7 linked regions of the Homo sapiens genome follow. The protein of the gene in region 3 purifies or fractionates together with the protein of the main gene of each other region. This does not show direct contact. Each region holds a gene or a part of one and is shown on either strand. Other genes may lie near its edges. The genes, in order: USP32, NUP155, ALDH3B1, IREB2, WDR73, TARS3 and FMN2.

Region 1 (4,149 bases), on a different chromosome or scaffold from region 3:
CTTCTCAGCAAAAGCAGCACACTCTTTTGAGCTTGCTCTTCCTTTTGTTGCCATCTCAGATAAAAAGGCCCCATGAGGGAGGAGACAGATAATTATAGACTTGGTATTCTGATAACTCTGTGTTACATGGAATCAGATGCAAATGAGTTGTACCCTGTGGGGTTTCATGCTCTGCTGTGTTGTCTTCTCATGGTGAGCTTTTCTGTGCCCTTATTTCATCCAGCTCTGGTTTCTGTGTTTCATGTTATTTCTCCTAGCCTCTGTAAAGTCTGCAGCATACTAATAATGCTCTGGCTTTCTGATTAAAAGTAAATGGCTTACTATCAGCACCCCTGGCTTGAGGGCCAGCTCACATGTAATCCCTTATAGGATTCCAAAGTTGTTAAATAAATGCAATTCTTTTTGTTTTTGTCATTTTGAAGCGTTCAAAAATTTTTCAAGAAAAGCTATGGTCATATAAATAGAAATTTTATCCAGAATGTTACCGATGTAACATTTGTGAATAAATATATAGGTGCTGTATTTGCTCAGACTCTAGTTTGGGTTGTGTTTTCTTTTCCCTTTTTTTTGAGACAGGGTCTCTCTCTGTCATCCAGGCTGGAGCGCAGTGGTGTAATCACAGTTCACTGCAACCTCTACCTCCCAGGCTCAAGCAATCCTCCTGAGTAGCTGGGACTACAGACATGTACCACAATGCCCAGCTAATTTTTAGATTTTTCTTTTACAGAGACAGGGTCTCACTCTTTTGACCAGGCTGGTTTCGAACTCCTGGACTCAAGCAATTACCCCACCTCGGCCTCCTAAAGTGCTGGGATTACAGGCATGAGCCACCATACCCAGCCAGTTGTATTTTCTTTTTCCTTATATAGAGTAAAATAAGGGTGAGTGACCAAGAGGTTGATGCATACCTAGATCACCACTTTAAATGCCTTCCCACGCACCCCTTTCCTCCTGTTCCCTCTACCTGCAGGTTGTAGATGAGCATGAGAGTGTGGAGCAGAGTCGGCGAGCGCAAGCCGAGCCCATCAACCTGGACAGCTGTCTCCGTGCTTTCACCAGTGAGGAAGAGCTAGGGGAAAATGAGATGTACTACTGTTCCAAGTGTAAGACCCACTGCTTAGCAACAAAGAAGCTGGATCTCTGGAGGCTTCCACCCATCCTGGTATGTTACAGTCCTGCCTCTGAGAGAGCAGGAATCTGGCATAAAAGAAAGAAGACATGAACAAACAGGAGGTTTTGTTATTTTTGAGAATAAGACCTTTCCTGCAGCAGTGTTTAAAACACTTTCTGTACAAGCTTTTTATGTTGAATACAGAGATGAATCTTTCTACAAATATTTTGTAGTTCTTTTTCCTAAAGAGCTTATAACCTAGAAGATCAATCATGTAGACCAGTAACTGCAATTCAGTGCAATGTGAGAACTGCCACAAGGGGTACAACGTGGTGAATTTGAACTTCAAGAGAGGTTAAACTTCTGGCTCTGTGGAGAGAGGAAGCTTAGGCTAACCCTTTGTGGACTCTAGAAGAGCAACTGAGCCTGGAGCCCCCAACACCCACTGCACATAATCATGTGGCTATGGCACACTACTGAGTTGAGTGTGTGTACACAAGCACACCAGTGCACTAGGGCCTGTGTGTTCTTTTAGATTTAATTTACTTCTGCCTTCTCCCTTCATGGATTAGGAGACTGTCCTGTTGTTTGTCAGGAGAATTTGAAGTGACAAATCTTCCTATTCATTAAGATCAGTGTAACTGTAAGGTACTGGCATATTTTAATTCAGATATTTATATGTTTTTTTTTTTTTTTTTTTTGAGACAGGGTCTCACTGTGTCACCCAGGCTGTAGTGCAGTGGTGTAATCTCAGCTCACCGCAACCTCCACCTCTCGGGCTCAAGTGATTCTCTTGCCTCAGTCTCCTGAGTAGCTGAGATTACAGGCATGCACCACTACCACCCGGCTAATTTTTGTACTTTTAGTAGATATGGGGTTTCACCATGTTGGCCAGGCTAGTCTTGAATTCCTGACCTCAGGTGATCTGCCCACCTTGGCCTCCCAAAGTGCTGGAATTACAGGCGTGAGCCACCGTGCCCAGCCATGTTTTCTTATTCTATTCATGTCTCTGTCATACTACTCTGTGAAGCTGAATGTAGGTTTTTCTTAGACCAGAACAGCTTCCCAGGGAATGATGCACAAGAAATTAATAACATTGGTTGTTAGCTAGCTCCACAGATAGGAACTAGAGGGAAGGGGCAGGCTTGGAGACAAGGTGGGTGGGGAGGAGGGGGAGACTTTTTTTTTTTTTTTTTGAGACGGAGTCTCACTCTGTCGCCCAGGCTGGAGTGCAGTGGCACCATCTCAGTTCACTGCAAGCCTCACCTCCTGGGTTCATGCCATTCTCCTGCCTCAGCCTCCTGAGTAGCTAGGACTACAGGCGCCCACCACCACGCCTGGCTAATTTTTTGTGTGTTTTTTATTTATTTATTTATTTATTTATTTTTAGTAGAGATGAGGTTTCACTGTGTTAGCCAGGATGGTCTCGATCTCCTGACCTCATGAGCCACCCGCCTTGGCCTCCCAAAGCGCGGGGTTTATAGGCGTGAGCCACTGCGCCCGGCTGACGGGTAGACCTTTTAAAAAAAATTGAGGTATAATTAGCATACAATTAAAAGCATAGATTTTTAATATCCAGTTTGATGAATTTTGACAAGTATATATTTTCATATAATCATCACATAAAACAAGCAGAGCAGTCATGTAGACCAGTAACTGCAATTCAGTGTGATGTGAGAACTGCCACAAGGGGTACAATGTGGTGAATTTGAACTTCAGGAGAGGGTGAACTTCTGGCTCTGTGGAGGGTGGAAGCTTAGGCTAAGCCTTTGTGGACTCTAGAAGAGCAACTGAGCCTGGAGGCAGTACCCACTGCGCAGTCACGTGGCTGTGCCACACTGCTGAGTTGAGTGTGTGTGCACAAGCACACCAGTGCACTGGGGCCTATGTAGAGGCCTTTATGAAACCATATTTTTGAAGTCTTTAAAAAATAATGAAGAGTAAATGTTCTGTTATATATTCCCAAACATTCACATGTATTTGACTTGTTTTTTCCATGTAAATTTTGTATCTTCAGAACCCTTTAATGCAGATGTTTTCTACCTTTACTTCTCCAGATTATTCACCTTAAGCGATTTCAATTTGTAAATGGTCGGTGGATAAAATCACAGAAAATTGTCAAATTTCCTCGGGAAAGTTTTGATCCAAGTGCTTTTTTGGTACCAAGAGACCCGGCTCTCTGCCAGCATAAACCACTCACACCCCAGGGGGATGAGCTCTCTGAGCCCAGGATTCTGGCAAGGGAGGTGAAGAAAGTGGATGCGCAGAGTTCGGCTGGGGAAGAGGACGTGCTCCTGAGCAAAAGCCCATCCTCACTCAGCGCTAACATCATCAGCAGCCCGAAAGGTGAGGCCTGGGGGCCTTATGCAGGTGCTTTCTTGGGACTCCTGTAGGCTACATATGTTTCTCTGTCTTCTGTTCTGGAACATCAGGTTGGTTGGGTGGAAAGAACCTATCTGGAATCAGACCTATCTGTATTTGAGCTATGTAAGTTTTAGCAAGAGGTTCAGCCTCCCTGAATCTATTTTCTCATCTGTAAAATGGAGATAATGCCAGGTTTACAGAGTTGAGAGTGACACATGGAGAGTAAAGCACTTCACACAGTGCCTGATATACGGTAAACAGGAATGGTAGCTGCTGTCTTGTCCCCTTATAGCAAAAGTTCTGAGGTTCCCCATCTTTCAGGGGGTCTAGAGGATCAAAACTCTTTTTTTTTTAATTTATTTTATTTTTTATTTTTTTGAGACAGGGTCTCACTCTGTCACCCAGGCTGGAGTGCAGTGGTGCAACACAGATCACAGCTCACTGCAGCCTCTACCTCCTGGGGTCAATCAATCCTCCCACCTCAGCCTCCTGAGTAGCTGGGACTACAGGCATGCACCACTGCACCTGGCTAATTTTTGTATTTTTTGTAGAGATGGTGCTTTGCCATATTTCCCAGGCTGGGCTCGAACTCCTGTGCCCAAGTGAACCTCCTGCTTCAGCCTCTTAAAGTGCTGGGATTACAGGTGTGAGCCACTGTGCCTTGCCCAAAACTA
Region 2 (4,149 bases), on a different chromosome or scaffold from region 3:
CATTGAGTTATGCTCCTTAAGAATAATTAACACAACTGCAATAAAAAAAGATTTACCTGTAGCAGCTTATCTGCAAGGTCGACTTGTATTAGCCAATTATAAAGGGCAATACTAAAGAGCTCATCCTTGGATCGCTGTGACAATTTAAGCATTTGTTCAAACTAAAATAAAGAAAATAGTAAAAATTAGCAGTTAAAGGCTCTGTTTCTGGGCATCACAACCCTTTAGCCCTATAAACTCCAGTAAGAAATCAAGAATCCTTACATGATAACTTCTAAGAACTACCACCTTTCCCCAAGATGACTGTGCTACCATTACCATGGAGAACTTCTAAACAGTGTATTCTCAGAATGAAAATATACTATGTCCCTTACATGATGTCCTGCTTCTTCATTACTCAGCATATTTGGATCAGATGACAACACTGGAGGACCAGGTTTTTTGGGTACACTGGGAGACTGAGGAGCGGCCTTACTTTGATTTACCAGTTCTTGAAGTGTGTCTGTAATGCATTTGTAACTGTTTAATCTGAAAGAAAATGGAAAAGGAACAATTACATTATTTAACTAGAAAGCAAATGATGGTAAGTGTGGTGACTCACGCCTGTAATGCCAGCCATAGGGAAGTCAAGGTAGGAGGACGGCTTGAGGCTGGGAGTTCAAGACTAGCCAGGGCAACAGAGCGGGACCACGTCTCTACAAAAAATACAAAAAAATTGGCTGGGCACAGTGCCTCACACCTGTAATCCCAGCACTCTGGGAGACGAAGGCAGGGGGACTGCCAGAGGTCACGAATTTGAGACCAGCCTGGCCAACCTGGTGAAACCCCGTATCTGACAAAAATACAAAAATTAGCCGGGCTTGGTGGTGCATGCCTGTAGTGCCAGCTATTCAGGTGAGTGAGGCACAAGAATTGCTTGAACCTGGGAGGCAGAGGTTGAGGTGAGCTGAGATCATGCCACTGCACTCCATCCTGGGTGACAGCAAGACCCTGTCTCAAAAAACAAACGAACAAAAAACAAAACAAAACGAAACAAAAAATTAACCAGGCGTGGCGGTGTGCACCTGTAATCCCAGCTACTTGGGAGGCAGAGGCAGGAGGATCGCTTGAGCCTAGGAATTCAAGGCTGCAAGTGAGCTATTATCATGCCACTGCACTCCAGCTCAGGCAACAGAATGAGGCCCTGTCTCAAAAACAAAAAACAAAACCCCCCAAAAACAAAACAAAACAAATAACAAAAAAGAAAGCCATTGATTTACCTTACCTAAGTATATACAAGGATTTCAAGACTATTTGGCAGAATAGATGTACATATTTGGCATTTAAAATAATACAAACCATATACTTTTTCAATAAGTTTGAGAAGTGTTTGGTTAAACATTAAAAGGGTAAAGTCATTAAATATAGTAATAAAAAAATATGTTTTCGCCAGATGTGGTGGCTGACACCTCTAATCTCAGCACTTTGGGAGGCTGAGAAGAAAGGATTGCTTGAGCCCAGGAGTTAAAGACCAGCCTGGGCAATATAGTGAGGCCCTGTCTCTACAGAAATTAAAGAGAAAAAAAAAATTAGCCGAGTGTGGTGACATGTGCCTGTAGTCCCAGCTACTCAGGAGGCTGAGGTAGGAGGATCACTGGATCACTTGAGCCCAAAAGGTCAAGAGTACAGTGAGCTATGATGGTGCCACTGACTCCAGCCCAGGAGACAGAGTGAAGCTTTGTCTCAAAAACAAAAACAAAAACAAAACAAAACACCCTCCATATATATATGTTATAGAAAGGTTATATATTTCTTCTTTGTTCCGAGACGGAGCCCTGCTCTGACGCCCAGGCTGGAGTTCTGTGGTGCAATCTCAGCTCACTGCAGCCTCTGCCTCCCGGGTTAAAGCAATTCTCCTGCCTCAGCCTCCCAAGTTGCTGGGATTACGGGTGTGCACCACCACGCCTGGCTAATTTTTGTATTTTAGTAGAGACAGGGTTTCACTATGATGGCCAGGCTGGTCTCGAACTCCTGACCTCATGATCTGCCCACCTCAGCCTCCCAAAGTGCTGGGATTACAGGCGTGAGCCACTGTGCCTGGCCTATATTTCTTTTAAGGACACACATTTCCTTTTTAACAGTCTCAACAAATTTGGGAATACTTAAAAATTATCCTTTAAAATGAAATCCTACTGGACATGGTGGCTCATGCCTGTAATCCCAGCACTTTGGGTGGTCGACCTTTACACAAAGAGGCCAGACACGGTGGCTGATGGCTATAATCCTAGCACTTTGCAAGACTGAGGTGGGTGGATCACTTGAGGTTAGGAATTCAAGACCAGCCTGGCCAAAATGGTGAAACCCTGTCTCTACTAAAAATACAAAAATTAGCCAGGCGTGGTGGTGTGCACCTGTAATCCCAGCTACATGGGAGGCTGAGGCACGAGAATAGCTTGAACCTGGGAGGCAGAGATTGCAGTGAGCCAAGATCACACGACTGCACTCCAGCCCAGGTGACAGAGCAAGACTCTGTCTCAAAAAAAAAAAAAAAACATAAAACAAAAAACAAAAAACATTATGCAAAGAAAAGTCTGTATCCATAAAGATGACAATCTGCTAACGTAATGGAATGCACCTTTCTTGGAAGGCCTGAAGTCCAACTATGTCTTCTTCTGGTTCTCCATGTTTATAGAAATGAAGCCCAAGACCTTGAGGATCTTTTTTCTCTGCAGCCGTAAGAGAAAGTTCCACCACACCCTCATAAAATCTCACTGATGGGAAAGAAAAGAATGAAGACCTATGACTTACTACTAAGTTGGATACATTTTTCCTTAGCTGGCACATGAAAATAATGATCAAGGTTATGTCTCTACTGTACAATAGTCACCCTGCTAACATAAAATATTTCTGATAGGTCTTCAGAAGGAAAAGGTCTTAATATGCCTAAAAGGCAACTGTTAAATATATTTCTTCATTGGGGGCCAGGTGTGGTGGCTCACGCCTGTAATCCCAGCACTTTGGGAGGCTGAGAGGGGGCAGATCACAAGGTCAGGGGTTCGAGACCAGCCTGACCAACATGGTGAAACCCCACCTCTACTAAAAATACAAAAATTAGCTGGGCCTGGTGGCATGCGCCTGTAATCCCAGCTACTCAAAAGGCTGAGGCAGGAGAATCACTTGAACTAGCGAGGCAGAGGTTGTAGTGAGCTGAGATTGCACCATTGCACTCCAGCCTGGGTGACAGAACAAGACTCTGTCTCACAAAAAAAAAAAGAAAAAGGAAAAAAAAAAATATATATATATATATATTTCTTCATTGGAAAAAAAAGATCCTATTTCAAATAACAAAAAGGAAAGTTTTAGTTCCCTACTGGGGGGAAAAAAATACCTTGGGATTCAAAATAATACCTGTGCAAATAGTTATGGCCTTTACATTATGTTAGATTTGATTTAAAGTAATTTTTTAAAAAGTAAGCAGATTATACCTTAAAACTCAATAAAAAATTTTAAATATCTGAAAAATAAATGTAATCCAGAAAGCAATGTAAAACATACAGTAATTGAACTGGACAAGAACTGAAACTCTAATGCTAAAAAGTTATACATTTCGGCTGGGCGCAGTGGCTCATGTCTGTAATCCTAGCACTTTGAGAGGCTGAGATGGGTGGATCACCTGAGGTCAGGAGATCGAGACCACCCTGGCTAACATGGTAAAACCCCACCTCTACTAAAAATACAAAAATTAGCTGGGCAATGGCCGGGCGCGGTGGCTCACACCTGTAATCCCAGCGCTTTGGGAGGCTGAGGTGGGTGGATCATGAGGTCAGGAGATTGAGACCATCCTGGCTAACATGGTGAAACCCATCTCTACTAAAAATACAAAAAAATTAGCCGGGCATGGTGGCAGGCGCCTGTAGTCCCAGCTACTTGGGAGGCTGAGGCAGAATGGCGTGAACCTGGGAGGCAGAGCTTGCAGTGAGCTGAGATCGCACCACTGCACTTCAGCCTGGGTGACAGAGCAAGACTCTGTCTCAAAATAAAAAAAATAAAAAAATAAAAAAATAAAAAATTAGCTGGGCGTGGTGGCGTGCGCCTGTAATACCAGCTACCCGGGAGGCTGAGGCAGGAGAATTGCTGGAACCTGGGAGGCAGAGGATGCAGTGAGCTGAG
Region 3 (4,149 bases):
GGCCTCAGTGTCCTGCCCAGGGTCACCCTGCTGGCCAGGATGGGGACAGGCTGGAATGTGCACACAAGCCCTTGGAGAAATCCACGCCAGAGGTCACTTTTTTTTTCTTTTTTTTTGAGACAGAGTCTTGCTCTGTCACCCAGGCAGTGGCACAATCTTGGCACAATCTTGGCTCACTGCAACCTCTGCGCCTCCTGGGTTCAAGTGATGCTCATGCCTCAGCTTCCCAAGTAGCTGGGGTGACAGGCATGTACCACCACGCCCGGCTAATTTTTTGTATTTTTAGTAAAGACAGGGTCTCACTCTGTTGCTCAGGCTGGTCTCGAACTCTTGGCCTCAACCAGTCCTCCTGCCTTGGTCTCCTAAAGTGCAGGGATCACAGGCATGAGCCACCACACCCGGCTTCGAGTTTTTGAGCTAGGGAGGGGCAGAGGGAGCGAGAGGAAGACAGTGGTGCTGGCAGGCGAGTCTGCGCCTTACAGGTCGAGGCAGTCGTGGGGAAGGGCCTGGCAGGATTGACCTGGCCGCCTCCCAGCAAAGGCAAAGGAGCCCTGGAAGGAACCACAGAGCCCAGGAAGCACTGTGCCAGGATGGGGCAGGGGTGAGAGTAGAGAAGGCACAGTGGCTCCTGCCGGCTTTAATCCTTGACCACAAGGGGGAGAAATGCCAGGGCCATCCCCACAGACGCAGCAGCGTGGTCCCCGAGTCAGGTCTGGAGAGGAGGCCTTGAGGCCCAGACAGGGCTAGGGCAGAGAAGGCTGTGTGCATGCGGAGACTGCTGGGCCCCTGGAGGCCAGCACAGAGGAGAGGTGAGGCCAAGCCAGGCAGGACATGGGGACGCCTGCATCAGCCTGGGACAGTCCACCTCAAGGGTCAGAAAAAAAGGGCTGGGCAGGTGGCAGAACTTCCAGGTTTAGGTTTAGAGAAGAGAGACCTGAATGCCGTAGACAGAGCTGGACTCCATCCTTGGGTGATAAGGGATCCCCGAAGTTTCCAAAGGAGATGGGTGGGGAGGGGTTCCATGCAGCATTTTGCAAAGAGTCCCCTGCAGGGTCAGCCAGGGTCACAAGCAGAGGCGGGAGGAGCCAAGGGGTTTGGCTCAGCAGGGGGACCCTGGGGGCCGATAGCAGCCGTGCACCATTCCCTCCTGAGACTCTGTGCTTAGGGGCTGGTCCTGATGAAGGATGAGCAGGGCCCTGGGCTGCAGGGTGGCAGTGAGGAACAAGGAAAGGCCAGGCGAGGGCTGCTGCCCGCTGACTCCACCACCTCTCCAGGGAGGAGCGGGGCCGTGGGCTGGGCCATCCCGCCTGGTCCAGGTCACTGAACGGCCACTCTGGTTTCCTTCCATGCCCAGGGAGCCCTCGTGTGGGCAAGATTGTTATGACTGCTGCCGCCAAGCACCTGACACCTGTCACCCTGGAGCTGGGGGGCAAGAACCCTTGCTACGTGGACGACAACTGCGACCCCCAGACCGTGGCCAACCGCGTGGCCTGGTTCCGCTACTTCAACGCCGGCCAGACCTGCGTGGCCCCCGACTACGTCCTATGCAGCCCTGAGATGCAGGAGAGGCTGCTGCCTGCCCTGCAGAGCACCATCACCCGTTTCTATGGCGACGACCCCCAGAGCTCCCCAAACCTGGGCCGCATCATCAACCAGAAACAGTTCCAGCGGCTGCGGGCATTGCTGGGCTGCGGCCGTGTGGCCATTGGGGGCCAGAGCGATGAGAGCGATCGCTACATCGGTGAGTCCTGCTGCCCCTACCACAGCCCACCTGGGCCAAGACCCCTCCTCACTGGAGGGCCCAAGGCTGGGCCACAACTCTGGACCCGCGCCTGAAACCTGGCCCCACTGCCAGAGCCCGGCCTTGAGCCACAGCTCCAGTGCCATGATTCCGTCTCTGTGCTTCTAAGTCTGTGGCCCTATGAGGCCAAACTCTGGTCCCTCACCTTGGATTCGCTGAGCTCAGATCCCAGGGCTCCAGGGCTCAGCGTGCTAAGATGAACTCCCATCCCACCACTGGCTATCCTGAAAGGCTGTAACCTCAGATTCTCCGAGCCCACAATCCCCAGGTTCTAAACTCCGAGAGTCCCGTCCTGAGCCCCCAGTCTCCTGGGCCGTACGGCTCAGCAGCTCATGGGACACTGCGGCGCCAACATTCTGGGACGCTGTTGCCTCATGAACTCCAAGGGTTCTAAGATCCCATCACCCCTGACTGTGAGACCAAGGTCGGGGGATTCTCTGTGTCCCACAGGCCCTGAGCAGGCTGGGGAAGCTCTAGAGTCCCTTCTGGGGGGCTGTGGGGAGACTTTCTTCCCTAAACACTCCAAAGCCTGAAGCCTTGGGAAGTCAGACCTTGGGATCCTGGCCTAGAGCCCTGGCCTGTGGCCCTGTCCCCACCTCTACCCCCACCCTGGGGGCGGTCCTGACTGTGGCCCCAGGGCTGAGCTGTCTCTGGTGCCTGCAGCCCCCACGGTGCTGGTGGATGTGCAGGAGATGGAGCCTGTGATGCAGGAGGAGATCTTCGGGCCCATCCTGCCCATCGTGAACGTGCAGAGCTTGGACGAGGCCATCGAGTTCATCAACCGGCGGGAGAAGCCCCTGGCCCTGTACGCCTTCTCCAACAGCAGCCAGGTGGGGGTGCGGCCGGGCTGGGCAGGGTCAGGAGCCCGCAGTGGGCAGCACAAGTGGTGGCAGCAGGGGGGGCACCAAAATCCAGTGGCTTCAGGACTTTGGGATGGTGGACCTCTTGGCTCTGTCTCTGCCCACTCTCCTGGAAGCAGCTGAGCCTCACCCACCCCAACCCTGTCCCCAGTCTGGGCCCCACTCTCCTAGGCCTTCAGTGGGCAGCTTCCTGGGGTATGGGCCTTCTCTAGGGTCCAGTGTTTCCTCTAGGTCAGCCCCTGCCTTTGTCCTTCTTACACATCGGGGCCTGGTGGCCACATGACCCCTCAAGCCTGGCTCTGAAGGCACAGGCAACGTGTCGGGGATGACCCAAAGGTGCAGGTCCAAGAATGAGCCCTGATCCCCTACCCCTGCTTAAGCTGCAGAGGCAGCCTGGGAGGCCCAAGGCCAGAGTCCTCAGATTAAAAAACACCAAGAGGTACCAGCAGTCCCTACCCACCCCGCCCCCTTCCCCGGCCCTCAGCCAGTTCCTCGATTCCCTCCACTTGAACTTTTTTTTTTTTTTTTTTGAGACAGAGTCTCACTCTGTCACCCAGGCTGGAGTGCAGTAGCACAGTCTTGGCTCACTGCAACCTCTGCCTCCCGGGTTCAAGCGATTCTCCTGCCTCAACCTCCTGTGTAGCTGGGATTACAGGCGTGTGCCACTATGCCCGGCTAATTCTTTGTATTTTTAGTAGAGATGGGGTTTTGCCACATTGGTCAGGCTAGTCTTGAACTGCTGACCTCAGGTGATCCACCTGCCTCGGCCTCCCAAAGTGCTGGGATTACAGGGATGAGCCACCGTGCCCGGCCACTTGAACTTTTTTTAAATAAACTTTGTATTGGGAAATACTTTTAGATTTACAGAAAAGTTGCCAAAATGGTACAGAGAGTTCCCATGTACCCCACACCTAATTTCCCCCATTTAATGGTGCTTAGATGGGTCAAAACTAAAAAAGTGATGGCAGGGCTGGGCGCGGTGGCTCACACCTGTAATCTCAGCACTTTGGGAGGCCAAGGTGGGAGGATTGCTTGAGCTCATGAGTTTGAGACCAGCGCTGGCAATATAGCAAAACCCCGTCTCTATGAAACATTTTTTTAAGATTAGTTGCGCATAGTGGCGCACACCTGTAATGCCAGCTGCTCGGGAGGCTGAGGTGGAAGGATCTCCTGACCCATAAAAAAAAAAAAAAAGTGACAGCAGTGCTTTACTATTAACTACACTCTAGACTTTATTTGGATTTTGCTGTTTTTCCACTGACATCCTCTTTCGGCCCCAGGATCCAAGCCAGGGTCCCACCTTGCATTAATAACCCTCTCAGCTTAAGGAGTGCTGGACAGGTCTCCTGTAGAACATCCCCAGCCTCAGGTCATCTGGTGTATTTCTCATGATTAAAGAAAGGTTACTGGTTTTAGGAGAGAATCCCACAGAGGTGAGCCTGCCTCTCACACCACATCTGGGGCACCTGAGATGCACACGTGGCTAGT
Region 4 (4,149 bases), on a different chromosome or scaffold from region 3:
AGGCAGAAGAATCACTTGAACCCAGGAGTTGGAGGACGCAATGAACTGAGACTGTGCCACTGCACTCCAGCCTGGGCAACACAGCAAGACTCTGTCTCAAAAAAAAAAAAAAAAAAATAAAGACTGGAACCAACAGTAAATAGTGAAAGTATAAAAATAAAAGCGTGTGATGGGGTGGAGGAAATAACATACTTTCAATCCAACAATTCTATATAATGATAAGTTTGCACAAAAATGTAAGTATTAGCACATACAAAGTTTATTTATAAATAGAGAAAAGTTACTATCAGCCTCAATATTCAAAGGTCTGTTAACTAAACCACAATGCATTCATACAGGCAATATTGTGCAGCTATTAGAAGCCACAGAGAAGTACAGGTATCCCTTTCTACCTGAACTCAAGCTCCCTGACTCAGAAACCAAGTAGATTCAGATAGCAAGGGATACCTGTATTCAATGACATGGAAAGATGTTCATGATATATTAAGTGAAAAAAAGGGTTACAAAACAACATATACTTTATTTTTATTAAAAGTAGCATATTTACATATATTTTTGTATACACATAAAAATGAGACTTTCTGTACCATCTGCAATGTTCTTGTCTTTTTGTGATTCTTCTAAATGATAAAAACTCTCCTAAAAAATTAAATACAGGATTTTCTTCCAAAGGCTGCAAGGTAGGATTTGGACACTAAGTCCCGGCTCTACTGGAGGACTAAGCAGTACTGTGGTTAAAAAGGCAAGCAGACAGGAAGGACAAAAGAAAGGGTGAATAAGATGACCTGAGATAAAGGGTGCCTGGGGGCTTTACACCACCAGAGGCCCTGTTGCCCAGTAACAGGTACTCTCTCAAAACTACCTTTCACTCCAGCCAGGCCAGTCTCTCCACCATCTTCCCCTTCATTCAACATAGTCATTCATGTTTCCATTATGCTGTTCATTCTAATTCTCTGATGTTAACTGTCCTCCATCATACATGGAGACACCACTGATTTCTCCACTCCTTAAAAATAGCAATAGTTTCAAATTCAGAGATCTACTTAAGAGAGTCACCCAAATCAGCTACTTGAGAGGGTGAGGTGGGAGGATCTCCTGAGCTCAGGAGTTCAAGGCTCCAGTGAGCTATCATCATGTCAGAGCACTCCAGCCAGGTTGACAGTAAAACTCCATCTTTATAATTTTTTTTTTTAAAGAGTTACTCAAAATCTACATTTTGAGACTACCTAGATTTTGACATGTTTCTAGTCAGCACATTGGGAGTGCCAGACAGCCAGCTCCAGAATATTAAAGAGATTCCCCACAACTGGCTGCGTGCAGTGGTTCACGCCTATAATCCCAGCACTTTGGGAGGCCAAGGCAGGAGGACTGCTTGAGGTCAGGAGTTTGAGACCAGCCTTGTTAATATGGCGAAACTCCATCTCTACTAAAAATAAAAAATCAGCCGGATGTGGTGGCACACACCTGTAGTCCCAGCTACTTGGGAGGCTGAGGCACGAGAATCGTTTGAACCCTGGAGATGGAGGTGGCAATGAACCAAGATCATGCCACTGCACTCCAGCCTAGGTAACAGAGCGAGCCTCTGTCTCAAAAAAACAAAACAAAATAAAACAAAAAACAAAAAAAACCCCACAAAAAATAAAAAAACAAAGGAGATTCCCCACAAGCAAAATCATACAAGATCAAAATGTAATCAATGTCTAAGATGTGCCCACTTCCATAGAGATACCCTGAGTATAAATTTGGGAAGCAAAAGGATAAAATGGCAGTAAAAAAGCAGAAATCAAATAATCTGTGTTGAACTCTATCTAAAGTCAGAATAAGAGAAGGCATCAGGTTGGTAACGCAGATAGATTAGGCTGGTTCACTCACCACCCACTCCCAACCACTTCTCCCTTTCCTTTCTCTATTGTAAAAGATGTAAAGGTAAAATACAGTACCCCATCTTATCTATGGTTTGGCTTTCTGTGGTTTCAGTTACCTGCAGAACAGCACAATAAGATACTTTGAAAGAGAAAGACCATATTCACATAACTTTTATTACAGTACATTGTTATAACTGTTCTATTTTATTATTAGTTATTATTAATCTCTACTGTGCCTCATTTATAAATTAAGTTTTATCATAGCTATGTATGTATAGAAAAAAATATATACCAAACAGTACATACACGGTTTGGTAGTACCCATAGTCTCCGGTGTCTACTGAGGGTCTTGGAACATATCCCCCATGAGTAAGAGAAGACCTTGATTATTCCATCTTTCAGCCTTCTTGAAGCTAAGAGTGGCCACTGATACTTTGGCCAAAGAGGCAAAAGCCCCTGGAGAGGGCTTTTATCATGGTTATAAAAACTGGTAATTCTGGAATTATGTTAAGTACACATGTACTCTGTACAGTTATGTACAAATTCCCATGACAGCTTATTTCCCAGGGAAAATTTAACTTGGACATAATGCCTGGAGGTGCAACCAAAAGAATAAAAACAGAACGGGAAGAAAGGACGAGCCTAGATCCTTGCGGAGATTGGTGCTGCACAGCCCCAGTCTGCCAATCTCCACACTTCGTTATGTTAGAAAAATAAACTCGTATTTCTTAAAGTCATTGGACAGCAAGTTTTCAGTTCTTTGCAGCTGCAGGCATCCCTGACATAGTCAGCATGGAGCTTAGAACAGTGTTTCTCAACTATCTTTACTCTGTAACATTTATGAGGGATAGAATCCATTCCCTTCATTAATCGTTACTCATTACAACAGTCATTCTCAACCTAGCAGGCATCAAAATGTGGAATGGAGGTGGAGAAGACTGGCTCTGTACCTTGGTGACTACCAAAGCAATGTCTTCTTGTAAGCATATGTCTAGGAGGCAATTCAATCTGATCCTTTCAAAAATGCAATAAGGATTTTTTGTTCTAAGGTTAAACAACCAAATACTTCCTACCTAACTTGTTCCTTTCTTTCAAAGTCAATTCTTCAAATTTTATTCCTTATTAGGAAATTACTTAAGTAATTATTACTTAATAACCTCTCATAATAAGCACTCTATTAAAAAAGCAGGAGGGGCTGGGCGCAGTGGCTCACTCCTGTAATCCCAGCACTTTGAGAGGCTGAGGTGGGTGGATCACTTGAGGTCAGGAGTTTGAGATCACCCTGACCAACATGGTAAAACCACCATCTCTACAACTAGCTGGGTGTGGTGATGCACGCCTATAGTACCAGCTACTTGGGAGGTTAAGGCACGAGAATCGCTTGAACTCAGGAGGCAGAGGCAGCAGTGAGCTGAGATCACACCATTGCACTCCAGCCTGGGTGACAGAGCAAGATCCTGTCTCAAAAAAATAAGTAAAATAAAATAAAATAAAATAAAATAAAAACCAGGGTACTGACCCCACATAAAAACCAACTTTCTGTTTTGAAAGTATTTATAGTCACAGGTATTCTATTATTACATTTATCATGGTTATAAAAACTGGTAATTCTGGAATTATGTTAAGTACACATGTACTCTGTACAGTTATGTACAAATTCCCATGACAACTTATTTCCCAGGGAAAATTTAACTTTCAGATTATCAATCATTCCCTTTCAATGCATTTTACAGTTGTTTTTGACAGTTTCCTACTGATTCCTTAAATTTGAGAAATTTAGGTCATCTTCCTTCAAGTAAGCACATTTCTACAGATTATACACAGAAAGTATTTATACTCAATTTTCAAAACATCTTATGTGCTCCTTTAATTTATTAAACTATGAAATTTGGGTTAAAAGACTTCCAAGCCAGTATCACTAGATTATTTTGGAGAAGTAAATGGGAAATAAAATGACTATTCTTGTAAACGATCAATCTAGCTGTTTCTTTTCAAAATTAATGCAAACTCACCATCAGTGAAGGGATAAAATTAATGTGAAAGACATACATTAAGAAAATGACCAACTTCCTTTAACAAACGTATCAACACAAATCACTGCAGCTAAACATGCAAGGTAAAGGATATTGCTCTCATTTTGGCAAACTGTTTATTTTTAAATGACAGCCTAATTCTAAAATGGGGATTCTTTAAGATACTCCAAAATAGCTGTATTTCACAATACACAAAAAATATTGCACATAGCAGTCAAGAATATTTAAATTCCTCAAAATCTACAGAAAAA
Region 5 (3,399 bases), on a different chromosome or scaffold from region 3:
GTTTCTGTAGTATTCACTACTCCAGACCTTTTTCAAGTTGAATTTTTTTTCTTTTTCCCTATGTCTGTTCTTACGTATTTTTTTTAAACTTTTATTTCAGTAGTGTTTGGGGAACAAGTAGTGTTTGGTTGCATGGAAAAGTTCTTCAGTGGTGATTTCTGAGATTTTGGTGCACCCATCACCCAAGGGTAGTCTTTTTTATCCATCAAGTCTGTACCCAATGTGTAGTCTTTGTTTTTTTCTTTTTTTTTTTTTTGAGACTGAGTCTCATTCTATCACCCAGGCTGGAGTGGAGTGGTATGATCTTGACTCACTGCAACATCTGCCTCCCGGGTTCAAGTGATTCTCCTGCCTCAGCCTCCTGAGTCGCTGGGATTACAGAGATGTGCCACCACGCCCAGCTAATTTTTGTATTTTTTTTTTTTTTTTTTGGCAGAGATGGGGTTTCACCATGTTGGCCAGGCTGGTCTTGAACTCCTGACCTTAAGTAATCTGCCTGCCTCGGCCTCCCAAAGTGCTGGGATTACAGGCCTGAGCCACCACGGGGCCCCAGTGTGCAGTCTTTTATCCCCTCAGTCTGTACCCAGTGTGTAGTCTTTTATCCCTCACCCCCCTGCTCCCACCCTTTCCCCCTGGGTTGAATATTTCAAATCTATTTCTTCCTTAAATCTTACTCAAAGGAAATCCAATACCATAGTCAGTTTCACCAAGGATGAATTTCTTGACCCAGAAAGGAAAGCTCATTTTAGGGAGATGGTCAGTTTAGGTATGTGTCTGAATTTTATTTAAGATAGATGAACGTGGATATATAGTTATGCATTTGGGCCTGAATTTTTTTTTCTAGTTGTTCTTTTCACTGAGCTTTCCCAAGAATCCCCCCAGAATTAAAAAAAAAAAATTACTATCTCCTCTCCCTGGCATATAAAATGGTTGGGATTAGATTTACCAAACCATTACATCTCCCTTTTGTCTGCCTGCAAACAGATTTTCCAATCCATAGGCCCAAAGTGAACTCCCACGTGGAGTAGGATGAAAACCCACAGCATCTAGATCTTCAAATTCTGGAGAAAAAGAGAGTGTGAAAGACTGCTCAGTGGCTGGGGTGAGAGTCAAGTCTGGCCAGGTGCTAATCTGGAGAAAAGCCAAGACCTGGAGCGAGCTGGAGTGGCAGGCCCTGGAGGATGAGAAGGTGGCAGGAGTGCACTGGGGATACAAAGAAACCAAGATTTTTCTGGGAATTCTCAGAGGCCTGGATCCACGAAAAACTCCGCACCTGCCATCGAAACCACCAGGTGTACCGGATTATGGCTGAGCAGCTGTGAGAACATGGCTTCCTGTGGACCCTGGAGCAATGTTGCTATCGGTTCAAAAACCTCCTGACCGACTACTGCAAAGCCAGGAGCACCTACACACCAGGCACCAGTGTCTTCTATGATGAGATGGATGCCCTGTTGAGTCTTGGGGCACTTTCTAACACCTTTGATGCCTTAGAGGTGGTAGGAGGCCTTCTTTGGGATTGAGAGGATTCCAAAGGGAACCAGGGCATAGCACTAGAAGATGTGGCGGGATGGTAATGAAATAGTGGAGGAGTCTCAAGAGGAATCCTGGAGGCTTGGTCCCCAGGCCTTGAGGTGGAATCCCAGTGGCAACTCTCCCCCACAATGGACCTCAGAGCAGTGGGAGCGACGCAGTCCTGTGGGAAGCATTCAGGCTCAGAATCAGGAGATGTGATTATTGTCCTGGCTCTGTTATGACTAATTTGGGTCTGGAATGGCCTCATCGGGGGAAAAATTGGTGACAACTTTAAGAAATACTGTTTATATCCCGTCCTCAAATATTGCTTGACTCAACCCTCTACTGAACCAGTAGTCCAGGGTGGCTCACAAAGACCACTTTGAGGCTCTTGCTCTGCTCTTTAGCCAAGGAGTCTCCCTTCCTGCCTTCAGTAACAACATTACAGGAAGAGAGGAGAGAAAGGTAGGAGTTAAAGATCCAGTCATTTGTTTCCATCTAAAGTGCCCTATAAGCCGGGCATGGTGGCGCAAGCCTGTAGTCCCAGCTACTCGGGAGGCTGGGGCAGGAGAATCACTTGAGCCCAGGAGTTGGAGGCCGCAGTGAGCTGTGATCATGCCACTGCATTCCAGCCTGGGCGACAGAGTGAGACCCAGACTCAGCTGAAAAATAATAATATTATTAAAAGAATTTAAAATAAAGTGTTCCATAGATGTGAACCCTGCGTAGATTATACACACCAGTCTGCCATTTAAAAGGTTTGTTGTTCTTGGGCAACCTCTTTAAATACCCTTAGCCTCCATTTTCTCATCTGGACAGTGGACATTGTGATGGTTTCTACCTCCCTGGGCTGTTATGAGGATCCTGACACAGTATTAGCACTTGGCAAACGTTAGTTTTCATTATCATCATCATTATAATTATTATGAAAATAGATAAGGGCATTATCCTGTACCCTCAAAGGAGTAAAAGGGGGAAAATGAGTCATTAAACTTTCTCTTCTGGGAACTAGACCTTCTTGAGAGGCACTATCATTCTCATTTCACCTGTCACTTCCAGACATGGGAGCAGAAAGTGAATTTCAGAACTCCATGTCCCCTCCTGCTTTTCTCTGAGCAGGACTTCCAGTTCCCCAGCCAGATGGGGTCACAATGCTGCAGAAAAGTGAAGAGCTTTGGAATGAAGATCTCCCGGACTTCAAGGAGATTCAGAAAACGTCCAGTGCAGGTGGGAAATGAATGGGAGCTAGCATTCCACCAACAAAGTCAGCCCTGGGATTCTAAACTCGGACAAGCCAGCACTGGTTAAGGGCTGAGGGGAACCAGGCACTCAGTGCACCCAGTTTACTATTCTGTGGTGTGGAAAGCACAGGACTTGAGAAGCAGGTGGCACCCAGGAAAGCCTGTTCCCCTAAGTAAGTTTGAACTTTAGTTACTTGAAAAAAGGTATAACTGAATTATGAGTGTTTATGATTTTATCTTTATTTTATTTTTTTTGAGATGGAGTCTCACCCTGTCACCCAGGCTGGAATGCAGTGGCACAATCTCGGTTCACTGCAGCCTCTACCTCTCAGGTTCAAGCAATTCTCCTGCCTCACCCTCCTGAGTAGTGGGGATTACAGGTGTGCCACCACCATGCCCGTCTCTAATTTTTATATTTTTAGTAGAGACGGGGTTTCACCATGTTGGCCAGGCTGGTCTTGAACTCCTGACCTCAAGTGATCCACCCACCTTGGCCCCCCACAAAGTGCTGGGATTACAGGCGTGAGCCACTGTGCCTGGTCTATCTTTAAATTCCTATCTGAATTTGTTTAGGTTTTTTAAATAAAAATCTTTCTTTTTTTTTAGAGACAGGGGTTCACCATGGTGCCCAGGCTGATCTCGAACT
Region 6 (4,149 bases), on a different chromosome or scaffold from region 3:
TGTCCCCCCACCTCCACCCCGCCCCTTTTCTCGATCTTGGCTCACCACAACCTCCGCCCTCCGGTTTCAAGCGATTCTCCTGCCTCAGCCTCCCGAGTAGTTGAGATTACAGGCATGCGCCACCACACCCAGCTAATTTTGTATTTTTAGTAAGGATGGCGTTTCTCCATGTTAGTCAGGCTGGTCTCGAACTTCCAACCTCAGGTGGTCTGCCCACAGCAGCCTCCCAAAATGTTGGGATTACAGATGTAAGCCACCACGCCCAGCCCTACTCTCCCCTTTTATACCTGCTTTCTTGTGTGCTACAAGCACTGTGACACATGGTTTGCCTGCAAGTTTTATCAAATATTTTGATATACTATCACAAAGGTTATTGGCTCTCCATATGTTAGAATCTGTTTCCTTGTTACTCACTGCCAGTCTGTTAAGCCAGTGCCACTTGTTTTGGATTTTTACTTCCAGGTCCTTATTTCTGTATTACTTAAGATATATACTAAGCTGCTACAACAAAGACATCACAAAAAACTCAAGTCGCTTGAATATGGTCAAAGTCTGTTTTTCATATAGCAGTCTAGACGTGGGTGGCCAGGTTGACTGGGTGACATGTCTCCATACGGTCTTTTGGGGACCCAGATTTCTCCCATCTTGTTGCTGATTTGTCTGGTACAATGTTGCCGTTGTCTACATGGTCCAGAAAGAATAGCACATGGGTTCCCATCTACAGAAGGTGGAGAGAGGTTGGAGAAGTGCCCTCCACTGTTTTAATGATGAGACACAGAAGTGTTACACATGACTTCTCCTTCTATCCATTGGCTCCAAACCTGGCCACATGGCCACATGTAGCTGCAAGGAAGGCTGGAAAACTCCTTCTGGAGAAGAAGGGCAGAATCGGTTTGCGAAACACTAGCCATCTATGACAGCCAGTAAAAATGAAAAGAAAGTTCTACTTGATTAATAACATCTAACATTTATTAAGTTCTTGTTATCATATGTACACATTATGTAATCCTGAGTATAGATGAATGAGGAAGGTCCTATAATCCCTATTTTGTAGATAAGAAAACTGAGGCCTAAAGAAGCTGAGTAAATTGTCCAGTATTTAAACTCAGGTTGGCCTCTTACCTGTGTGCCCCCAACCTCAATGCAGTACTGCTGCTCAAGTTAATCACAGAAATGTAAATTAAAAGATTACATTGTAGGCTGGGCACGGTGGCTCACATCTGTAATGCCAGCACTTTGGGAGGTGAAGGTGGGCAGATCACTTGGGGTCAGGAGTTTGAGACCAGCCTGGCCAACAGGGTGAAACCCTGTCTCTACTACAAATACAAAAAGTAGCCGGACATGGTGGCATGTGCCTGTAATCCCAGCTACTTGGGAGGTTGAGTCAGGAGAATCACTTGAACCCGGAAGGTAGAGGTTGCAGTGAGCCGACATTGCACCTTTGCACTCCAGCCTGGGTGACAGAGTGAGACCCTGTCTCAAAAAAAAAAAAAAAAAAATTACATTGTAGAGTTGATACAATTTAATAGTACCTAACATTATGAGAACTCAGAGACAAGATACTCTTGTAACTCTGCTAGTAGGAAAATTTTGCAATATATTCTGACAGAAATCACTGAAAATGCATTTCCCTTGACCTAGCAGTTGTACTTCCAGAATTTTTCCTGAGAAAATAATTGAGTAAGATATATGTTCAAGAATGTTCATTGCAGCATTGTTTTTTGTTGCTACTCGTCCCCCAAAGTACCCATAAAAAATAATTAAAATGCCTAGCAAATATTGGTTCCTCTGTGACTATTAAATATCACGTTTTGGAAATCTGTCTCCTGTTAGGGAAGATGCTGTGATTTATTGTGAAGTTTAAGAAGTAGGTTATAAAATCACATAATTATGATACTATTAAATATTTTTTATTCCTATATATTAATATGGAAAGATATAAACAAAACATCAATGGTAATTTCTTGGTGGTAGAATTATAGGTGATTTTGTGTGTGTGTTTCTGTGCTTTCCAGGTTTCCTTTCTTAACTTGTAATTTTGTCAACAATTTTCAAACAATAAATGTTATTTAAAAGATACCCAAAAAAACAGAAAGAAAGAGATCAACACCTCACTAGAAGACCATCCTGGCCAATATGGTGAAACCCCATCTCTACTAAAAATACAAAAGTTAGCTGAGTGTGGTGGCCTGCGCCTGTATTCCCAGCTACTCGGGAGGCCGAGGCAGGAGAATCGCTTGAACCCAGAAGGCAGGGGTTGCGGTGAGCCAAGATTGCACCACTGCACTCCAGCCTGGCAACAAAGTGAGACTGTCTCAAAAAAAAAAAGAAAATAGGCAAAGGAAGCGGATAGTTCATAAAAGTAAAAATAGCTTGTAAGCATGAACCAAAACTAATAATTAAATCAAAACAACAATTTTCAATGTCACATTGATAAAGATTTTAAAAATCGGGGTACGTGGAAGTGATGCGTTCAATTGACATCAGAAATCTGTCAACGGTACATCCCCTTTGATCTAGTAATTCCAATTCTGTGGATGTATTCCCAGAAAACAGTCACAGAAGTCGCAAGATGCCTGTGTACAGATGTCTGTGTGATATACTCTATGATAGCAAGACTTAGGCGACCTCAGTGTGCAGCAGTGGAGGCTTCATTAATAAATACAATACTTCCAGACTGCTTTGGAAGGCAATCTGAGGCATGACAGAAAATGCAAGCTATACAATTATGTCGGCAGCTGCTTTTAAAGACAGCACATATGTGTGCGTGGGGTGGATGGAGGTAGAAAAACCACTGGATAGAAATGTACCAAAATGTTATAAGTAGTGATTTATGATATTTATGTGTGATTTTTATTTTATCTTGTGGGCTTTCTCAGTTTTCCAAGTTTTTTTTAAACAGTGAATGTGGCTGGGCGCGGTGGCTCACGCCTGTAATCCCAGCACTTTGGGAGGCCGAGGCGGGCGGATCACGAGGTCAGGAGATCGAGACCATCCCGGCTAAAACGGTGAAACCCCGTCTCTACTAAAAATACAAAAAATTAGCCGCGCGTAGTGGCGGGCGCCTGTAGTCCCAGCTACTTGGGAGGCTGAGGCAGGAGAATGGCGTGAACCCGGGAGGCGGAGCTTGCAGTGAGCCGAGATCCCGCCACTGCACTCCAGCCTGGGCGACAGAGCGAGACTCCGTCTCAAAAAAAAAAAAAAACAGTGAATGTATATTACTTTTCTACATAAAATAAATATTGCAAAACAAGAAATATCTGTCCTATTAGTTTATGTTTGTACTTTTTATACACTTCAAAAAAAAAAAACCCTAGAAATTCTTTTAATATTTTAAGGAATCATTGTAACAGTGATAAAGTTAACTCCCAAGTGGCTTTTGTCTTCTTAGTCAGGAACTGGCTGAAAGCACGGTAATAGCCAAAGTCAATGGTGAACTGTGGGACCTGGACCGCCCATTGGAAGGGGACTCTTCTCTAGAGCTGCTTACATTTGATAATGAGGAAGCTCAAGCTGTGAGTATTTAAAAACCAGACAGCCAAACTTTGGGTAGTTATGTTGTAAACTACATTATATAAGAGGCCACATATTGAAGTCACGAATGTTGAGTTTTTTGGGGGTTTCTAAGATTTAAAATTTGATTATTGATGTTTAATAAATATTTGTGGCATGAATGTATACAAATACATGTCAGTTTTTAAAGTAGCCCATATTTATAATTTCTTTTTTTTTTTTTTTTTTTTTTTTTTGAGATGGAGTCTTACTCTGTCACCCAGACTGGAGTGCAGTGGCGCAATCACGGCTCACTGCAGCCTCAACCTCCCCTGGCTCAGGTGATCCTCCCACCTCAGCCTCCCAGCTACCTGGGACTACAGGTGCACACCACCACACTCAGATAATTTTTCATATTTTTTGTAGAGACAGGGTTTTGCTATGTTGCCCAGGCTGTTCTCAAACTCCTGGGCTCGAGCAGTATGCCTCCCTCAGCCTCCCATAGTGCTAGGATTACAGGTGTGAGCCACTGTGCCCAGCCTTATCATTTCTTACAATAATCATTTCCTTAAGTTAGAATGCTTTGGTTATTAAATCAATGTGTGTTTGAAATGAATTGTTAGTAGGCCATTAAAAATGGGTCTACTTTATAATTTA
Region 7 (4,149 bases), on a different chromosome or scaffold from region 3:
TGTTTTTCTAGAGAGCACAGTCAGACGAACTCGAAAAAATAGAAAAGCATGGCCGATCTTCCAAAGACAAGGAAAATGCCAAGTCTCTGGACAAACCTGAACAGTAAGCATGTCTTATAACCACGTAGAGGGCGTCCAGGCTATGGGTGGGCCCGTTTTGTTTGGAAAATGCAAATGCGGTGTCTTCAGTGCATACTTGTTGTGAATGAGATGAGGATAAACATCTGTTTATGTGAATTATATTTTTCTTCTTAACTTGGCTTTATTTCCTTAGGTTCCTTTATGAACTGTCACTAATCCCCAACTTTTCAGAGCGAGTCTTTTGCATCCTGTTCCAGTCCACATTTTCAGAAAGCATTTGCTCAATTCGTCGCAAACTGGAATTACTACAGAAATTGTGTGAGGTGAGTTCTGGTCCAAAGAGAGCTGAACTTGAGTCTCATTTAATTGTGCTCAGCCATGTTCTTATTTCAGAAAAGCATTCTTTTATTTACTCTAAGTACTCACCAAATTTGAAGGATCGCAGTCCCACAGAAGGGAACATTTTATGATTGACCTTCAAGATCAAAGTAAATGTTCCGGCGGGCGCCCAGGGCTACAGGACCACATTGCTAGAATGTGGCCAATACATGTTGGCCTCCAGAGATTTCTCTGCCCTCTCCTTTTGCCAAAACAAAATCTTCAGTTTTCACGGTCCTCTCAGACATCAGACTTCCAAAGGAATGTAATTTGAAGGCTTTTTTTTTTACTTTCTTTCGTTATCTGGAAGGACCTCTCCACAAACTGTTAATAATTATTCCAGCCAAATAATTTAGGAACAGCCATATGACTCAACAGAAGACAAATATTCTTCCGAAAACAAAAAATAAATGCTTGGCAGAAACGACCAATGTTAACATTTAAAACAATTTGTCAAATATCAGTAATACCATTTGTTCTAGTTGCGGTAAATCATTTTGAAAAGTGAAAAGATGTTTTTAAAGGCTCACATTTTCAGAAGAAGTGACATGCAAAGTCAAGTTAAACACAGTGTTTTGAAAGAAATGAGTGTGAGCTCTTTGGGGGTAAACCTAAATTTAGAAATTAATCTCTGAATCTGCTTTTTGGTTTCCTCTGCTGATGCCAAACATTGGTATTGTTCCAGACGTAGGCACCATTAAGACAATGGCAGTGATATTAGTGATGTTATTTTGTAATAGTTCTCATTTGGCCTTATCTAATAGTTATCATATAGCCTTTGTTCCCATATAGCCTTAATAGTTCTCACACAGGCTTGTTTTCCTTGCAGTTACATCACAGAAATGGCCTAACATAGCATCCCCCAGCTTACAAAGGCATACCTGAATGTTTGTGGGTGGTGCAACTTTTACTAACTTTCAGGATACTGCTCTTAAAATATACCTAATAATTAGGAATGATAAAGTTCGGTTGTGACCCAAAACTCCTAATATAATATAAATAGCTGGCATCAACTCGATGATTCAAACAAAACCTGGTATAAGATAAAAGTTGTTTTTTGTTGTTATTCTGTTTTACAGACATTAAAAAATGGCCCAGGGGTTATGCAGGTTCTAGGTTTGGTTCTTGCCTTTGGCAACTACATGAATGGAGGAAATAAGACTCGAGGACAGGCAGATGGCTTTGGATTAGACATTCTTCCAAAACTGAAAGATGTCAAGAGCAGTGTAAGTATTTTGCATGAGTGGACGTAAGCACATTGAGGAGTCAAGGTTTTGTTTAGTAATGGGTTTGAATGTAAAGCAGTTGTAAAAAATATTTATGTTCCTAGGTCAAATGCTTCTTTATGTTCTGAGCTAGAAAAAAGTAATGTCCATCAGATATTTGTGATTTTGTGATTAATGTTTCCTAAAGTGAATAATTTTCATTCTTATGTCTAATGTATAATTACAACTTTTTAATATAAAAACAATACAAAATAACTTTTTATATTGTTTTAATATAAAACAATAATTTCTTTTACCATATCTTTCCCATGTCTGCTAATATTTATCCTTTTGGAATCTGAAGGCTAATTATTTTCTATGAATTAGACAGTATATCTTTTTTTCTTTGTCATGTTAAGCAATGAAGGCCAATAGGTCCATATTTTGAAAATAACACAATGATGAGTAAAATGGCTTGTAAACAAAATATAAAAGGTGATTCTACTCTGCTGCATATGATTTTCTCCTTGATACTGGTGTGTAGGGGGATGTCTAAGCTCTCTTGCAGACCTAATCATTTTTTGGTACTACTTCTGCAGTTGTGTTTGTTTGAAATTAATGTCTAAGCAATTGTGAGAGTGCCAGTAGAAATATGAGGTTAGGAATGATGGTTAGAGTCACAGACTCAAGTCTGAGACGGTAAACTTAAAAAATAAAAGAGTTACATTTCTCTGATAAAAAAATCATCACACAAAAAAGTAGGATAAAGGAAATTCTGGACATGTTTTTGAAATATTAAGTTTAATAATTGGCTTGTAGAAATAAAAATATGTAGGACTGTCCTTCCTAGATAATGAAATAATTTCCTTCATGGGGGAGAGAGAGACTTTTAAAAATCTTTTCTGCCAGCCAACAATTTGTTTATTGTTTTATATACAGATGCTTCTCAACATAAAATGGAGTTATGGCCTGATAAACCCATCCTAAGTTGAAAATACCATAAGTGAAAAGTCATTCAATACATCTAACCTAGTAAACATCAAAGCTTAGCCTAGCCTGCCTCAAACATGCTCAGAACACTTACCTCAGCCTACAGTTGGGCAAATCATCTAACACAAAGCCTATTTTATAATAAAGTGCTGAATATCTCATGTAATTTATTGAATACTGTGCTGCAAGTGAAAAACAGAATGGTTGTATGGGTACTCGCAGTACAGTTTCTACTGAATGCGTATCACTTTTGTACCATTGTAAAGTCAAAAAATTGTAAGATGAAGCATCGGGAGTCGGAGACTGTGTCTCTGTGTACGTGTGTGTGTGTTGTCAAATTAATACAGATATTCATGCAATATTCTTTCATTGAGCATCTATGGAATGTGGACACTGCTCTTCCAAAATCGAATAATTCATAGTCCTTCCTTGGTACACCAGCAGCATATGATTTTTTTATTTTTATAATTGTTCAAATGCTCATGTGTATGATACACATTTTCATAGAAGTATCTACTATAGAGAGCTGATAAATTACATTTGTTAAAAAAAAAATGCTGAAGCCGAGTGCAATAGCATGAGCCCGTAATCCCAGCTACTTGGGAGGACTTTTCAAGGCCAACCTGGGCAATACAGTGAGAGCCCTTCTCAAAAAAAAAAAGAAAGAAAAGCCCTTTTCTTAACCTATGGTAATTCTTCAATACTCAGCAACTGCTTGTTGGAGTGAAACAACTTTTGCAAATAACATTGAAATCTATAGCATCAATATCATATTTAAATTATAGAAATGAACTGGAAATAGATTCTAGTGATCATATATAAATAAGAGATTATTTGTGGGACTTTTTTGGTATCAGTTTATATATCTTATTCAATCCTCTGTTAGGTTAAATTTCATTAATTTAAATAATCAAGAGGTAATCTAAAATAAAAATTTAAATATGTAATCAAGAAATACGTTTTTAAAATAGTTTCACTTGTACTCAGAAGAGCTATACAAAGTCTTCCTGAATTGGTTCTTTCTCTGTAAAACAAATGTAACTATATTTATTCCTTAGTACTATTTATAGACCTCCATGGACAGAGCTGTTACTTTGATCACTTAGAATTTTCTCTCAGCATGCCTAGTTTTGTTAATTGATTCAGGTGCTGCCAACCGTTTCATTGAATTACAAGTTGGGAGAGAGAAAGGAAGTCAAGTTGCTTAAATCATTTTACAAGCAAATCCTGTCTAATGAGGGATATCTCTAATAGCTACATTACTGACTCATGTCAAACTTGATTATAAAGAGGTTTTGCTCTTTTTACAAATATAGAAAAAATCGTGGTTATATTAAACATTCCAGAGAATGTAGTTTGTATCATAGGGTTTGTTTTTAAAGTAAAATATATACTTGAGCTCTCAAATTCAGATTATCTACTACTACTTTGGAACAATACAAAAAAAGAGTAAAATAAAAATTAATGCGCCTAAATAAACCAGAAAGGAGGTGAA

Evidence for each region.
Region 1: the proteins of ALDH3B1 (region 3) and USP32 purify together in Homo sapiens (affinity purification with mass spectrometry; 2 studies listed by BioGRID and IntAct, with this or other methods). This does not show direct contact.
Region 2: the proteins of ALDH3B1 (region 3) and NUP155 purify together in Homo sapiens (co-immunoprecipitation; 3 studies listed by BioGRID and IntAct, with this or other methods). This does not show direct contact.
Region 4: the proteins of ALDH3B1 (region 3) and IREB2 purify together in Homo sapiens (affinity purification with mass spectrometry; 2 studies listed by BioGRID and IntAct, with this or other methods). This does not show direct contact.
Region 5: the proteins of ALDH3B1 (region 3) and WDR73 purify together in Homo sapiens (affinity purification with mass spectrometry; 3 studies listed by BioGRID and IntAct, with this or other methods). This does not show direct contact.
Region 6: the proteins of ALDH3B1 (region 3) and TARS3 purify together in Homo sapiens (affinity purification with mass spectrometry; 2 studies listed by BioGRID and IntAct, with this or other methods). This does not show direct contact.
Region 7: the proteins of ALDH3B1 (region 3) and FMN2 purify together in Homo sapiens (affinity purification with mass spectrometry; 2 studies listed by BioGRID and IntAct, with this or other methods). This does not show direct contact.

Annotation. Positions count from the first base shown.
Region 1 is NC_000017.11:60,182,473-60,186,621, reverse strand, and holds part of USP32 (ubiquitin carboxyl-terminal hydrolase 32), read left to right. Parts: intron 1-970; coding exon 971-1,162; intron 1,163-3,168; coding exon 3,169-3,457; intron 3,458-4,149. UniProt on the Homo sapiens protein: Deubiquitinase that can remove conjugated ubiquitin from target proteins, such as RAB7A and LAMTOR1.
Region 2 is NC_000005.10:37,304,683-37,308,831, forward strand, and holds part of NUP155 (nuclear pore complex protein Nup155), read right to left. Parts: intron 2,751-4,149; coding exon 2,615-2,750; intron 529-2,614; coding exon 375-528; intron 162-374; coding exon 57-161; intron 1-56.
Region 3 is NC_000011.10:68,020,131-68,024,279, forward strand, and holds part of ALDH3B1 (aldehyde dehydrogenase family 3 member B1), read left to right. Parts: intron 1-1,354; coding exon 1,355-1,741; intron 1,742-2,464; coding exon 2,465-2,631; intron 2,632-4,149. UniProt on the Homo sapiens protein: Oxidizes medium and long chain saturated and unsaturated fatty aldehydes generated in the plasma membrane into non-toxic fatty acids. May have a protective role against the cytotoxicity induced by lipid peroxidation.
Region 4 is NC_000015.10:78,441,105-78,445,253, reverse strand, and holds part of IREB2 (iron-responsive element-binding protein 2), read right to left. Parts: intron 1-4,149. UniProt on the Homo sapiens protein: RNA-binding protein that binds to iron-responsive elements (IRES), which are stem-loop structures found in the 5'-UTR of ferritin, and delta aminolevulinic acid synthase mRNAs, and in the 3'-UTR of transferrin receptor mRNA.
Region 5 is NC_000015.10:84,638,524-84,641,922, forward strand, and holds the end of WDR73 (integrator complex assembly factor WDR73), read right to left. Parts: 3' UTR 762-3,399; downstream 1-761. UniProt on the Homo sapiens protein: Component of a multiprotein complex required for the assembly of the RNA endonuclease module of the integrator complex. Associates with INTS9 and INTS11 in the cytoplasm, stabilizing the INTS9-INTS11 heterodimer and blocking the active site of INTS11.
Region 6 is NC_000015.10:101,714,206-101,718,354, reverse strand, and holds part of TARS3 (threonine--tRNA ligase 2, cytoplasmic), read left to right. Parts: intron 1-3,391; coding exon 3,392-3,515; intron 3,516-4,149. UniProt on the Homo sapiens protein: Catalyzes the attachment of threonine to tRNA(Thr) in a two-step reaction: threonine is first activated by ATP to form Thr-AMP and then transferred to the acceptor end of tRNA(Thr).
Region 7 is NC_000001.11:240,329,065-240,333,213, forward strand, and holds part of FMN2 (formin-2), read left to right. Parts: intron 1-11; coding exon 12-103; intron 104-274; coding exon 275-404; intron 405-1,538; coding exon 1,539-1,685; intron 1,686-4,149. UniProt on the Homo sapiens protein: Actin-binding protein that is involved in actin cytoskeleton assembly and reorganization. Acts as an actin nucleation factor and promotes assembly of actin filaments together with SPIRE1 and SPIRE2.